Homo sapiens: one gene and its partner. The protein of the gene in region 2 interacts with the protein of the main gene of each other region in a pairwise test. Each region holds a gene or a part of one and is shown on either strand. Other genes may lie near its edges.

Region 1 (7,999 bases), on a different chromosome or scaffold from region 2:
AAAGACAATAGTATCCAGAAGGTCAAGGAGGTCTATTTCTGTAAATGTGGAATGGTGGAAAGACCCTGGGCCTTAGACAGGCCTGGGTTCCAATCCAGCCCTGTCACTTACATGTTGTGACCTGGGGCAAGTAACTTATCCTTTTGGACTTAGTTTACTCATTTGTAAAATGAAGATAATACCTAATTCACAGAAGTTTTGAGGTAAATGAGATAATTCTAAAGAACAGAAGGAATTCACTGATTTATAAGGGAAATGATATGAGCACAGTGTTCAAGAGTGTGAAATGCTATAAGATGGTGAATTAATCTAAGACCTGGCATAGACACTTGATTCAAAAACAAAGATGTCATTAGTGACCTCTGTGAAGGTAATTTTGGTAGTGAGAATAGCTAGCCTGCCATAGGAAATGAGAAAATGGAGAGTGAGCATAAATGACAAATTTCAAAAAAGTAATACATTGAATGGAACAAGAAAGATAGGGCAGAAACTAGAAAGGGCTAATGTAGAGTATAAGTATTTTTGTGACTTCAATTACTGTCCTTATGCTGATGATTTCCTTATTCTTCAGGTCAGATATCTCAAGTGTCAGACCTGAATTTCCTTCTGCCTATTTGGGACCAGGATACCCTACAGAAGCCTCTCAAATCCAACATGTCAAAAATGAACTCAGACAATTCCCTACCATCCTTTGGGGCAGGCCCTTGGTATGTGGGGATTTAGCATTCTTGATTTTGACTATGCTTGAGTATCCCTATAGATCAGTGAAACACCATCTGTCAGCTGCTGACACATGCCTTTGAATCAATGTGCATGCGGTAAGTGGGAGAACGGGAGAAGGCTCACTTAATCAGTGGCTTAGCCTCCAAACAGTTTGCTGTTATATATTCCTGAATGTGTATATAGTTAACATTTCCCAGCTGATAATTATTTTTCTTAGTCAAAATGAACTTAAACTTTAAAAAGCCAATTCCTAGTATTCTTAATATAAGTAAAAAAGTCCAAGAAAGTGATGATTATCAGTGAAACCCCGTGTCTACTAAAAATACAAAAAATGAGCCGGGTGTGGTGGCACACGCCTGTAGTCCTAGCTACTCGGGAGGCTAAGGCAGGAGAATCACTTGAACCCAGGAGGTGGAGGTTGCAGTGAGCTGAGATCACACCACTGCACTCCAGCCTGGGCGACAGAGTGAGACTCTGTCTCAAAAAAAGTGATGATTATTAGCCAGAAAATAAAAGATTGGTATTGTAATGGTTAATTTTATGTGTCAACTTAACTGGCCACAGGGTGCTCAGATATTTGGTCAAACATTATTCTGGATGTTTCTGTGAGGGTGTTTTTGGAATGAGATTAACATTTAAATTGGTAGACTGTTGACTAAAACAGACTGCCCTCCATAATGTTGGTGGGCCTCATCCAAGCAGTTAAAAGTCTGACTAGAACAAAAAGGCTGACTCATCCCTGAGTAAGAGAATTCTTCCTGTCTAAAATGCTTCAAACTGAATCATCAGCTTTTTTCTTGCCATCAGACTTGGAACTAAAACAGCTCTTACTGAATCTCAAGCCTATGGCCTTCAGACAGGAACTACACCATCAGCTCTCCTGGTTCTCAGGCCTTTGGGCTTGAGCTGGAACTAAACCATTTGCTCTCCTGGGTCTCCAGCCTGAAAACTCACTCTGAAGATACTGAGACTTGCCAGCCTCCATAATGACCTATGCTAATTCCCTATAGTAAATCTCTTTCTAGATCTCTACCTATCTTTACCGATATAGATACCCTAGTTATACAAATAATGACACAAATACAGGCATATGTATATATATACATAATTCGTATTATTGTTTAGGTATATATACCTGTATTCGTATTTTTTATATATACCTGTATTCATATTATTATATCTATAGAGATATCTATACCCATATCAGTATATATCTATGCCACATACATATATATATACTGGTATCTATATCAGTATTGGTATATAAATAAACATGTGGTATGATGTTGATATGTATATATAGGGTATGATGTGTTTTTTTTTTTTCTTTGAAATGGAGTCTGCCTCTGTTGCCCAGGCTGGAGTACAGCAGCGCAATCTTGGCTTACTGCAACCTCCGCCTCCCGGGTTCAAGTGATTCTCCTCCCTCAGCCTCCCGAATAGCTGGGATTACAAATGCCTGCCATGACACCCAGCTAATTTTTGTAATTTTAGCAGAGACAGTGTTTCACCATGTTGGCCAAGCTGGTCTCGAATTCCTGACCTCAAGTGATCCACCGTCCTCAGCCTCCCGAAGTGCTGGGATTACAGGCATGAGCCACCGTGCCTGGCTGGGTATGAGGCTGAATTAGTGGTGAGTTCATTTCTATAATGTGATTAAATATATCAAACACAATATATAATAAATAATTTGATAAACTGTTTTGGGAGGAGCTCCATCTACCCAGCTATTTGAGCCAGAAAACTGACCATTCCTTCCTCCTTTCATATCTCATGTATCTGATCAATCAAGTTCTATTGATTCTATTGCTTAAATATCTCTCAAATCAATCCACTTCTCATCCCCTTTGCCATTGTCTTCTCCTACCTAGACCACTGTGACAAACAGACTGGTCTGAGACACCAATCTATTTTCCACACGCAAACAGTGATCATTCTAAGGAGGATATGAAATATTATTATGTCCCTGCTATGCCTGTTACATATAATGGCTGATTATTACCCTTAGGATCAAGTTCAAAACATTTAATATGGTTTACATTGTTTTTTGATCTAATAAAGTACTTTATTTCATCAAATTTGCAATACTCCTTCTTGCTCCTTGGCCCTTCCACAGCTTATTCCTTCTGCTTGGACCACCCTCCAACCCTCCAATTTTCTTCTTGTTAATGCCCACTCACACTTCATGTCTCAGCATAATAAAACAATGAGCCAGGACAACTATACTACATGTTTCACATATATTAATTATTTAACCCTCACACAACCCTATAAAGAAGACACTATTCCTAATTTCTTCGTGCAGAGAAGGAAATTGAGACGGGGAGAGTTGAAGAACTTACACGAGGTACCAAAGCTAAACCTCAGATCTTTTCTCCAGTATCTCTTGCACCCACAGGCCCAAAACCTTGGATTTATATTTGCCTTCTTACTGTCACACCCTACATCTGACCCAGTAGCAAATATTATTGTCTCTATTTTCAAAGCAGATCATAATCTGATCACTGGCTCAAGATATCCTTATCTCCCACCTGAATTACTTGGAATTTTAAAAAATTACTCTTAACTTTTAAGTTTTCTTGATTCCATTCTTGCCCACTTACAATCTATTATCATCATGAGTCTCCAAGTAAAGAAGCTTTAAAACATAAGTCAGATCATGTTTTCTTCTGCTCAAAATCCTCCAAAAACACACACCAAAAAAAGACAAAATTCCTTACACGATACAGTTCTCATTTCCTCTACACTCTTCCTCTCCATACCCCAATCTCTCTGACATCATTCCCTACAAAGGTCGCCTTTGTTCACTGCTCCAACCGCTCTGGTCTCCCCGTTATTCCTCAAATATGCCAAGCAAGCTCCTGCTTTAAGACCTTTGCACTTGCTATTCCCTCTACCTAGAAAGTTCCTGACCGCAAAAGCCACTTAGGTCTTTCCACCCACCTCCTTCAGATTTCTGCTCAAATATTACCTTCTCGGTGGCGCCTACCTTTAATATCTACTTAAAATTGCGCTGAATGGATGAAAAATATGCAGCAGAAGGTTGTACTCTGTTTACCAGATCCACAGCTTCATCACTCTCATAGGCCCCAGGGCCGACACCTCCGCTACGGACCCCGCCCCCTCGGTCGAGGGAAGATTCTCTGCACCCGCCGGGAAGCAGCTGCTCCCTAGGCCCCTAGGCCGCAGTTCCGCCCCAGCCCGGGGCCCAGCTCCAGGGTCCGCTCACCTGGTCAAGGGGCCTCAGAGGACCCAAACGCTCTGAAACAGCGTCTTAGCTCATCGCCGAGTGTCAGCTCTAGCTCTTCGGAGCGCTTTCTTCTCCGCTCTAGGAACGCTGGAGGACCTTGGCTCGATGGTGCTGCCGCTTAGGCATCGCAGAAGGAGACTAACATGGGTGCTGCCTGCTGAGGACGGCTGGGAGGGTCATTTCGTTGTGAGCTAAGATTGTTGGGGTTTTTTTTTTGTTTCTGTTTTTGTTTTTGTTTTCTCATTTTAAAGTGGATGTTTATTTTATTCATGTAAAAACAGGCCAGCTCCGTTGAGTGTTATCACAAACAGCCAACATTTTCACTTTGCTCACATAAATAAAACACACATACTTCGCCATTTTTCGCAATTTAGAAATTCATCAAACACAATGGCAAAAATAATTGTCAAAGTATTTCGAAAATTAAACTAAACAATGGACATACGTTTGGATTGAAAGGTTTAAGGTAAGAAGAAATTAGGGCTATTACTGTGAGAGAAAATAAATCAACAACACTTTGCAATCAATGTAAGTTTCAGGGGGAATAAAAGCAACAGATATCACTTTATCAAAATAAATTCTACAACAGAGAACAGAAATAGTCTCTCTTGCCCACAGTATCACAAACTGGGTTTTTATAGTTTTTGAATAAGATAAACTCTTTGAATGCTTATACATTGCTAGTGGGAATGTAAATTAGTTCTGCCACTGTGGAAAGCAATTTGGAAATTTCTTAAGGAACTTAAAACAGAGCTCTCATTTGACCCAGCAATTCCATTATTGGGTATATACCCAGAGGAATATACTGTTCTACCATAAAGACCATGCATGTGTATGTTCATCACAGCACTTTTCACAATAGCAGAAACATGGAATCAACCTAGATGCCCATCAGTGGTGGACTGGAAAAAGAAAATGTGGTACATAACACCATGGAATATCATGCAGCTAAAAGAATGAGATCATGTCCTTTGCAGCAACATGGATGCAGCTGGAGGCCATTTATCCTAAGCCAATTAACACAGGAACAGAAAACCAAATACTGCATGTTCTTACTTATAAGTGGGTGCTAAACATTCAGTAAACATGAACACAAATGGGAACAACAGACACAAGGACTTCTTGAGGGTGGAGGGTGAGAGGAAGGTGAAGATTGAAAAGTTACCTATAAGGTACTATGCTACCACTTTGGTGACAAAATCATTTGTACACCAAACCCCAGCAGTATGCACTTTATTCATGTAACATACCTGCACATGTACCCACTGAACCTAAAACAAAAGTTGGAAGAAAGAAAAAAAAACCTTTAAAAAATCTGAACAAACTTTTGTGTTTAACTGATCAGTTGACAGAAGCTTTGAAATATCATTAAATATACAAAACATTGTACTGACGTGTAATTTATTCAGTGTTTCAAGCATTGAAATTATCATAACAGAAAAAAAACAACCAGTTTCATTATCACAAGCAGTTATCTTTTCTTCTTAAGTGTCTGAATGTATCTTTGAAAGCATATTTTTAAAGTAAAAATTAAATATGTTTACTTTAAAACTTTTCATAAGGCCAACAAATCTAGTCAATATGTGTTACTAATTAGAAGTCAATATTCTTTCTTGAGAGGAAAACTCATATATCTTATTTTTTAATATCTAGAAAAGGACCTTTTCAAAAATTATATAAGGGATAAACATAAAGAAAATTTAATTTAAATAGAAAGTAAATACTATATCCTATTTACTCCCCCTCTAAAATTCCCTACTATGACTAGTTTCTTAAATCTGTCACTTTTATTGTCAAGGCTGAGATTATTGCCATTGCACTGGATATCCCATGAAAATCAAAACCTTTAAAGTAGCTAGACAAAGAAGAGTTTTTTTAAATTTTCAAGGTGTGCATTTTTCATTTAAACAGTCTGTTTGTACCTTTTGGGAGGGGTAGGGGTAGATAAGGTGAGAATAACTCAAAACACTGTTATCACCAGGAGAGACAAAATACTAAAATACAAATCAATTTTCAAACTTGAGGTTTTCATTTTCCAGGATTATCCTTATTTTTGTAAACTATAGTGATCATGTTTCTGCCAGGTCCATTCATACGATATTCAAGATAAGAACTTTCTTTTCCATATTATCAGTAGAGATGCTATCGCATTATGAGTCATGTCACCATGCTCCAGCATAAGATTTACAGTTCTTATCTTCTGGTAATGATGCTTCCTGCTCTTCTCTCTGCTTCTTATACGTATACAGCAAGGTCTCATTCATTACTCTGAGTTTTAAAATAAGTTATTTGTCCAGTGATCGTTCTAAACAATCAAAGCCTACAAATGAATCTAACAAATTTATAGCTTAATATTAGGAACCTATAACTTTAAGTCACCCATATTAGGCTGATAAAGAAAAATCATATAATCTCCACAAATGCTACAATGTCATTTCATAAAACTCAACATATATTTCTGACTAAAAGCAGAAACTCCTAATAAAAAATAAATAGATGGATGATTCCTTTATAAGGCAAAAATAAATACATCTCAAATATACCAAAAACCTCCCTTATATTTGATGGTGAAATCTTAGACATATCCCCCATAAATTCAGATTAAAGTCTAGCTGAATTCGTTAGGCTAAGAATAAAAAGAGCAATTTTGCTAAATGTATGATTTCTTACTCCCTAAATTGCTGGTGGCTAAGGTTAAGAAACACCTTCCCTTGTGCTACAGAACTTTAAAACAAACAAACATGAAATACACATTAGACCCCTTATGCCAGTGGGAGATTTTTATATTTTGTGAAACACTACTTTTGATAATTCCACAAAGTCATATAATGATGGTCTGTGAGAACATTAATGCTATTTCATAAAATGTATCAATTGTAAATCAGCACAGCCTCACTAGTTTGCTTTCTTAGGCTGTTTCTCAGCACTGAATAAAACTCAGTGTAACTCTAGTGGCTAAGACAAGTTATTTGATCTGTTCAACTTCCTGCTTGAGCAGAGTGAAATAATAAAGTGATTCTGATGGTTTCTTGAAATGTAAACGTAATACAAAATTTTCGTTATACTGTTTTTCTTCTATTTCACAATCCATAGCTACATACTCTGGGCAAAACTACTTCAAAGGAAAAGTTGTAACCCTTTTTATTAGCTCCCCTGAGACAACAGTGATCTGCAGTCATATTCCAACTCTTGAAATCTCTTTTAAGGCAGATTTATTGGCCAAGTCCCTCTCTAATAGCAACATTAAATGGCAAGTTAAGCATAACTACAGCAAAAAAGCTATCATGAGTATTCCACTGTAGGCATTAGACATACTATTTGTTGCATGGTGTGTATTTTATCTTTCTGGGAAAGAAGCTCACCGATCTTACCTTGGCTTACTTAGAAGTCAGTTTCTCAGCTGCATCTTCTTCCAAGCGAGAAAGATAAAGATATTTGTTTGGCCACTGTTAGAAAACCTTTTTAGGCTTTAACGGGCATTACAGTCAAGTGTCTCTCAGAAAAACAAGTCAAAGGTAAATAACACGGAGATATATTTGCAAGATATTTGATAAAGATCTAATTTATTAAAGAGTTTTTATGACCAGTTAAGAAAAAAGACCAACAACGCTATAGAAGAGTGGACAAAGGTTATCAGAGGAGCAGTTCACATACACACAAAAGAATTTCAAAAGACTCGTAAATACATCTATGAAAGGATGCTCTATCTTACTTTTAATAATAAATACAAATAAAATGCCATTTTCACCTTAGATTGGGAAAGATCAAAAGGTTTGAAAATACAATATTGGTGATGATGTTGGTGAGTGTGTAAACATAGAAGGTGGTGTTGCAATATCTACTAAAATTTAAAAGCACACACAGCTTAAATCTGGCATTCTTAGTCTTTCCTTGACCACTATATCAAAAAAGTTCCCCCCAATTCTGTCTCTAGCCCGTTACTTTTTTCACATCATACTGTAATTTGTAATTTTTGCCTGTTGGCTTTTATAAGTCTGTCTCCCCCAGTAAAATGTAAAATTCTAT
Region 2 (8,254 bases):
TTATCTCATTTACTTCTCACAATTGTGTTATCTCATTTGAAAAATCAGAATGCTGGGTGCAGTGGTGTGCACCTGTAGTCCCAGCTACTCAGGAGAGTGAGGTAGGAGTATTGTTTGAGCCCTGGACTTCAAAGCCAGCTTGGGCAACATAGCAAGACCCCGTCTCTAAAAAAAAAAAAATAATAAAATAAAAAAATAAAATAAAATAAAAGAATAAAAATAAGAAGACCACACCTCACAGCAATTAGATAATCCAAACGACATGGATTTGGAACTTGGATTCAAACTCAAGCAGTCTGGTTCCAAAGATTTCATTCCTAACCACTTAAGTGATAGATTTTTCATTTCTGTTCACCTTTAGTATTAAGCCAATACAGTTTGCTTTGAAGCCCCAGTTCCATCTTTTTAAGTAAATGTGGGCAAGAGGCTTAGTAGTTATGGCTAATTCTGGTTTGCTCCTGCTGCTGGGCACTCTGTCTTTACACATGGAGTAGTTCCATATAGTGGGAAAAAAAGTCTCACGAAGCCCAGGCCAATGAATACACTTTCAGACTTAGAAGGCCATGGTTACAACCTTCCTTCACCTCAAAAACTGAAAAACAAGACCCCACACTGCTTTCCTATCACACCTTGTAAAATGGGGCCTCTGACCCTCCTTGATTTGATGAATCCTATTAATGTTCATCCAATGCTCTCTGCCCATGATCCTCTATCATGGTTATTTACACATTATGTGTCATGCCCAAGCATAAGTGGGAAAACCAACTTCCCCTCCGATAACAGATGAAGACTCTAATGAAATCTACTAAACCTCACACCCAGTTTGGGGAATCCAAGAATTACTATACACTGAGGCAGATACTTTATTTGGGGATTCTGCCTGAAGTAAGACTAAAGAGCAAAGTCTCTTCTTTAGAAAGGCAAGAACAAGGGGCAGAGTAAAACTAAGGGAGCATAAAGAAAGCCTAGAAGTCCACGTGTAGAGGGAAGAATAAAGGGGGTAAGAAGACACAATAGAAGAGGGGTGGAAACAGAAGAATGACAAAAGAAGGGCAAAAGCTACAGTCCAAGTGCTAGAGCCAAGCCAGTTTCTTACAGATGTAGGGTGTGTGTGTGTGTGTGTGTGCGTGCACGCACACACGTGCACACACGTTACAAGTGGAGAATGAAGGTAAGGTATCCTAGGATAAGGTCTCCTAGCAGACTTGCATTTTTGGCTCATAGTATTAGACTTTATTGGTGGTAGCATAGAAAGTAGAAGAAACGACTCATAGCTTCTGGCAGCTGCTTAGTTAAATTAAGGTGAAATGGGCTAGAGACAGGCAGGCTTCCTCTGACACGTTTAGATCATATTCCAAGTGTTTATCCCAGTAGCCTAGACTAGCCTGTTGACACAAAGAGCTCTTCAAATATCTGTAGGTAGCAGGGTTAGGAAATTCCTGTGACAGGTTTTCATTTCTGCCATTTTTCAAAGTACACAGGATGTAGAGCATGGATAGTGATATAGTATTGATTGGTAACAGGCCCACTGGCTCCCCACTCAATATGAAAGTTTAAGAACTGGAGTAACTGTGCATAGAAGAGCTTATACCAAGAAGCCCATTTTATCACATGGAAAATCACAAGGTTCCCTGTTTCAAATGTCTAATCCAAATTTTAAAAACATGTTCTATTCCTATGCTAGTTTAGATGAAAGAGAGTTCAGGATGCTATAGGTAAATTTCTTAGGTTAAGAGGTTGCTAGAGAAAAAATGATGTTTGAAAAATGTTTCGGCCAGAAGCAGTGGCTCACACTTGTAATCCCAGCACTTTGGGAGGCCAAGGCAAGTGGACTGCCTGAGCTCAGGAGTTCGAGACCAGCCTGGGCAACACAGTGAAACCCTGTCTCTACTAAAAATACAAAAATTAGCCGGGCTTGGTGGTGCACGCCTGTAATCCCAGCTACTCAGGAGGCTAAGGTGGGAGAATTGCTTGAACCCAGGAGGCTGAGGTTGCAGTGAGCCGAGATTGCACCACTGCACTCCAGCCTGGGTGACAGAGCAAGACTCCATCTAAAAAAAAAAAAGAAAATGTTTCTTAGGACAAATTTTAGAAAAGAGATAGTTTAGAGAGTATAGTTTTAGAAATGGCTTGTCACCTTGGTAGTCATTTAATACTAGAAAATAGCAAAATCATAGGACTATGAATAAAATTAGTATGAAATGTTCTATAAATAGTCAATCTATAGAATTACTGAAACTTTATTATGTCAAATTTAATTTTCAGGCATAAGTATGAATTTCTGCACAACAGAACAACTCCAGATATAAGAATAACAGTTCCACCAAAGAAGATTGGCATTCTATTAGACTATGAACATTCAAAGTTGTCATTTTTCAATGTGGACCTTTCTCAGCATCTATATACATTTAGTTGTCAGCTTCACGAATTTGTGCATCCCTGTTTTTCTTTGGAAAAGCCTGGGTGTCTAAAGGTACATAATGGCATTTCAATGCCAAAACATGTCACTTTCTATTAGAACATTCTGATGTCCAGTTTCCTGTCTTCCATGCCTACCCCTCTCGCAGCTGCTCACGCCTTAGCTGGCTGAACCTGGCACTTAAGCACCATGTGCCCAGCACAATTTATGGCTCATGCTATTATCTGACTGGTGTGCTAGCGCTCATTTCACCCAACCTGGATTCTAGTCCTGTGTGCTGCTACCTGTGTGCTGCTAGGATAGTCATTACCAGGCCCAGCTGTAAAATAAAGGCTCAGACTAAACGAACTCAAAAGTCTTTGAAGCTGTCAAACTATATTCGTGTATATGCAAAATATCTTGAGTTTCCAAGACCTAGAGAGCTTGGGAGAGGACGAGGGTAGTCTTAATGGCTCCAGCAGCACCAGTACACCCATGCATTTCATGAGTCAGCCAAGAATACACTTGAGAAGGCGAGAGGCTGTCTGTAGAGAACCAGGGAAGCTGTGTGCCCTTCTCAATGTCTTCTACCCTCGTTTTCCCAATAGTGAGCAGCACTGTGGTGAGGTCCCTTCCACTGTGTACTCTGCATACAGGGTATTCCCTGTTCCACTCCTACACAGTATGCACCACTCTCTAATTTTGAAATTACCTCTATAATGCCTAATTCCATGAAGGGAGGGACAGTGCCTGTTTTGTTCATTGCTAGATCACCAAGGGCTAACACATAACAGCTGTCACCAAGTATTTGTTGAATAAATTAGTATCTTCTTCAGCCACTGCTCTTTGGCCTCTTACTGCTCTCCATGTGAAGGATGGCAGGGCTCTTTCAAAACTACAGCAAAGGACCTATGGCCAAGAAATGGGAAAAAACCTAGAATGGAGGCAGCGTGAAAGAACAGAAGGGCATCTGTGGCATATTAGCAAATGCACAACAATTTTTTAAAAGAAATTAACAGCCCACCAAAGGGCAAAGCTGAGCACGGGAAGGAAGACTGATCTCTAGCTAGGCAGCTTTCAGGCATCCTGCCTCACTGCCCCCAGGCCATTCTGTGAGCTCAATGCCCAACTCCATCAGCTACATTCCTGGTTCTCCTGTTCAAGTTTCCAGTTGCCACTTAAGCTCTGCACACACAGCATTTTCAAAGCTTGTGAGTGAAGCTGCAGAATAATTCCATTTGTGAAGCAATTACAATTCAGTATCATGTCCCACAGATGCCTCTAAACCCAGATATGCCCTAATCTCATCATTTAAGGTTTTGTGTTTAAAAAAAAAAAGTCCACTTTTCTTTTTTCTGGCGAAACCCCGTCTCTACTAAAAATACAAAAAATTAGCCGGGCATGGTGGTGGGCGCCTGTAATCCCAGCTACTCAGGAGGCTGAGGCAGGAGAATTGCTTGAACCCGGGGGCAGAGGCTGCAGTGAGCCGAGATTGTGCCACTGCACTCCAGCCTTGGCAACAAGAGCGCAACTCTGTCTCAAAAACAAACAAACAAACAAACAAAAAACCTCTGATGTTTTCCAGCACCTGCAAAGTCTGACAAACTGAAAGACTCTCATCTCCTACTAAACTCTGCCTACTCGTATAAATGGCAGCTCAGATTCCTGAATTAACAATTCACACTGACAATTTAATAACTCGTTATACACACACACACCTATCCTGCCAAGCTGGACTGTCTACTCTGAAACAAGGGACAGCAGATGTAAGCACAGAAATAGTTCCAGTTATAAACAATTAAAAGATACATATCATGTATATTTAAAAATGTTCTCGGCCGGGCGCGGTGGCTCACGCCTGTAATCCCAGCACTTTGGGGGGCCAAGGTGGATGGATCACAAGGTCAGGAGATCGAGACCATCCTGGCTAATACGGTGAAACCCCGTCTCTACTAAAAATACAAAAAAATTAGCCGGGACTGGTGGCGGGCGCCTGTAGTCCCAGCTACTCGGGAGGCTGAGGCAGGAGAATGGCGTGAACCCGGGAGGTGGAGCTTGCAGTGAGCCGAGATGGCTCACAGATCAAGACTCCATCTCAAAAAAAAAAAAAAAAAAAGTTCTCAGCTACTGAAATAGAAACTACCAAGTAAGAAACAGGATATCACAGAGAAGGCAAGTTTGAATTCAGGGTTCTAATAGGCTTTATGGAATACTACACGTTAGTATGAACACGGATAAATGGATTAAAAACTCAACACGTATAAAGTTTTAATTAAATTTTTATTTGACCAAGAAAAAACTGTCTAGAATTGCCTGACATTTAAAATCCACTTAAAGCAGATTAGCAACTTCAAGCATCACAATTATTCAGCATAAAGAGCCTTTGTTGAAACATCTTTCTCATTTATTTAGAAGAAAACATCTAGAACAGAACCAAGCAAAACTTTTGTATTTTTGTAAAAAATCTCAATTCCTGAAACTACTATAAACAATCTACTGAAACTGTATTCAGCAAGGGACAGATTTACCTCAAGGCCATGTTCACCTGCAACCTGCTGATAAGTCTGTTAAAAAACAAAGCAAAAAAAAGAGTTTTTAAAAATTAGACCACTGTAGCCACAATCCCTAACACTGGACAGTTAAAACAAAAGTTATCAAAATCTGTTCTTTTCTTAGCTTTACCTGTATCACTTTATAACTCCTGAGAAAGTCATTCACATAAGCTGTGGCCTCCCCACCTTAACAAAGGGGAAAAAGAATATGTAAAACCACCACAGAATCTTGGCGTAAACTAACATGGGTTTAGTAATACAGAGTACAGTATTCAGGATTTAAGGCACCCTTACAAGTCAGAATTGGAAAGTTGGTTTGAGACTTGCAATCTAAAATGACACTGATTTCTGATAAAATTAAATGACTTTTATTTAGAAAAGTGTGTTTAATAAATTACTTCCTGCTGGTTCAAATGACACACAATCACTTTGTATACATCCAATAAGATATTTCTGAAGTGTATACTTGGTCAAAAGTAAAAAGCAGAGCAAATGCATGGACAGTGGGGCCTTCTTCTTAATACTTCTCATCCTCCAAAATCTGTTAAAATCATCATCTTCCACAACTCACACACTGGAAGCTGTCCACAGCACAATTCACTGTGATGTGGCATTCTGTAAATAAGACTACATTGGTCTTGATGCAAGGCGGTTCAGCTACCAGACTGCACTATAAGAAAAGTCCTCTCCTCAACTTACCAAGAAAACTTCGCCAATTTCTAGTCACCTTCCTATCAATTAGTAGAGCAAGATTCTCACATGTTCACTATGTCTTTCTCCAGTTTTCTCATCTATAAGTGTACTACTCCTATTTTCTATAGGAAGACAATGGAAAGCGTGTAATTGCTGTTGGTAGATAAGTAGGTCTTGAATTTATTTTGCAAACAAGACCTGTTCTATCTACCTTTTCATTTAGGAGGCTAAAAGCAGAGTCAGCTTGATTTCAAGGACTCTATTTTCTTAGTCTCCAGAAGAACATAACCAAATCCAGCTTTTAAAACACTGTCCTTTAACAAGTCAAGATACTCAAATAAAGATCATGTATAACTTCAAGCTATAGGAGATTAACTCTGTACATATGCTTGTTTCACTGTAACCAATGGTTAATTAATCTAAATGCAAGAGAAAAGTTATTTGGAAAGAAGACCCCAGCTGGTCAGCATCTTTTCTGTCATCAGGAAGTCTCCTGGAAGGAGTATGACTATGACCTGGGCACAACAACTGCCCCTAAGTTAGTACTTATTTTAGAGTTGCTACTGAACAGGTGGTGGTTCTTGTCAAGTATATCATGTCTGACTACTTTACTGCTTGTTTTCTGCTATCACCAGTTCCAGAAAAAAAAAAAAAAAAAATTAAGCCCAACTCACTAATTGATTGCTTTTTCATTTTCCCAGACTGTGACAGAATCATGGTTTTTAGCTCTATTTTCACCTTACTCAAATCCTGGAGGAATTAAACTATCATTTATTTGAAATGTTACAAATTAGCCTGCAGTTGATTCAAACAACATGTAGTCACTCAGACATAGCAAATAAAAATGTTTTGGTATATGAACTTGGATTCTAATCTTGCTGTCTCTACTACTCTCATTCCTAAGTATAAATGTTAGGTCTCTTGCTTGAAAGGAATTTAAGAGATGCCCTTAAATTCAAACAGACTGGCTCGCAGAAAGGAATATAATCCATTCACTGGGAAAGTACACAGCCAACAAAACTGAGATTTCCCAACTATGCACTGTAACAATGCAGAAACACAGTTTTAGAGATGGCTTTACTGGGTATATACATCGCTCTTGGTAGACCCATCTATTATTCTGCCACCCAGAAAGATTCTTACCCTCCTACTTCCTTCCAAACATTCATTTAATTTAAAGGTGACAGGGACAGGGAGAGGGAAGGAAAAAACAAGAAGCACTATCCAAAAGTAAGAACAGTACTCTGGAGAAAGGTAAAAGATACTCAACACTGTTTTTTGTACCATTTACGATTTATAAATCAGCCACAGAGTCCTAGGCACCCAGAATGGACCTCCCCTTCCTTGTCTACCTAATGCCTGTATAGCTCCAAAATCACCTCTTGGAAACACTGCCTTATTCCTCCCCCTCCCAGGAGAGGTTAAGTGCCACACTCACCTCTTTTAGATTACTTCAGTGGCTATACTGCAATCATTGACTTGTGTCTGCTCCACTTGACTATAAGCAAATTGAAGGCAGGGTTTGTGCCTTCATAATCTCTGAATGATCTGAAGATGGAAATAACTGCTTTGTGCTTTCAGGGAGCTCATATACCTGCAAAGAGAAAAGAGACATCAAATTATCTTCCAAAATCAAAGGAAAAGCCTCTTTATTAGAAAGCAAAGCAGCTTTCAAATTTGTGTGTGCTTGGGGAGTAGAAGGAAACATTAAAAATATGAACCTGCTGGGCATGGTGGCTCACACCTGTAATCCCAACATTTTGGGAGGCCAAGACAGGCAGATCACCTGAGGTCAGGAGTTCGAGACCAGCCTAGCCAACATGATGAAACCCCGTCTCTACTAAAAATACAAAAATTAGCCGGGCATGGTGGTGGGCGCATGTAATCCCAGCTACTCAGGAGGCTGAGGCAGGAGAATTGCTTGAACCAGGGAGGCGGAGATTGTAGTGAGCCAAGATCACGCCATAGCACTCCAGCCTGGGCAACAAGAGTGAAAACTCCGTCTCAAAAAAAACAAACAACCCCAAAATATCAACCTTTCTTCTGTCCCAATACACCTTAAAGATCTGATACAGAGTCCCATTACTAATAGTGCTCCATGGTGACTTCTAATCTGGGAAGAGTGGGAGGGGACACAGAACAATCTGGGGATGGGAAAGATGTATGTGGTTTAGAATGCTCTTCCCAACACTGCAAGAGACCTTTGACATGTTTAATATTTATTATAGTTAGACTATACTTAAGAGAGCCCAAAGATCTTCAAAATGTATATTTTAAATGTTCTGAATCATAAATTTGGTTCATATGCCCTGGAGGCTGGTGAGTGAAAGCCGCCCCCTTGACTACTGAGTAAGCTTAACTGTCAATCCTATATTTATAGCACAACATGAGTATTTGGCTTTCCACTAGTTTCAGGATCTAAGACTTTATGGAATAAATTATATGCTATAAAGGTAATGTCAAATTAGGGACTTAGAAAGATCAAAGGTGATTCCTTTTCAAATGTCAAGTATCTTTAAAAGTCACTTTTAAAAGTGATACAAAGCAACAAAGTATTATAGCTCAGTACCTAACAACAGCCCCTCTTCCCCAAACAACTTTGGCCAAATTT

Evidence for each region.
Region 1: the proteins of FSD2 (region 2) and ZSCAN26 interact in binary tests that used the Homo sapiens proteins (3 or more experiments, as listed by UniProt).

The regions. Positions count from the first base shown.
Region 1 is NC_000006.12:28,263,167-28,271,165, reverse strand, and holds the start of ZSCAN26 (zinc finger and SCAN domain-containing protein 26), read right to left. Parts: upstream 4,024-7,999; 5' UTR 3,953-4,023; exon of another isoform or gene 3,713-3,952; intron 1-3,712. UniProt on the Homo sapiens protein: May be involved in transcriptional regulation.
Region 2 is NC_000015.10:82,753,612-82,761,865, reverse strand, and holds the end of FSD2 (fibronectin type III and SPRY domain-containing protein 2), read left to right. Parts: intron 1-2,265; coding exon 2,266-2,518; 3' UTR 2,519-6,504; downstream 6,505-8,254.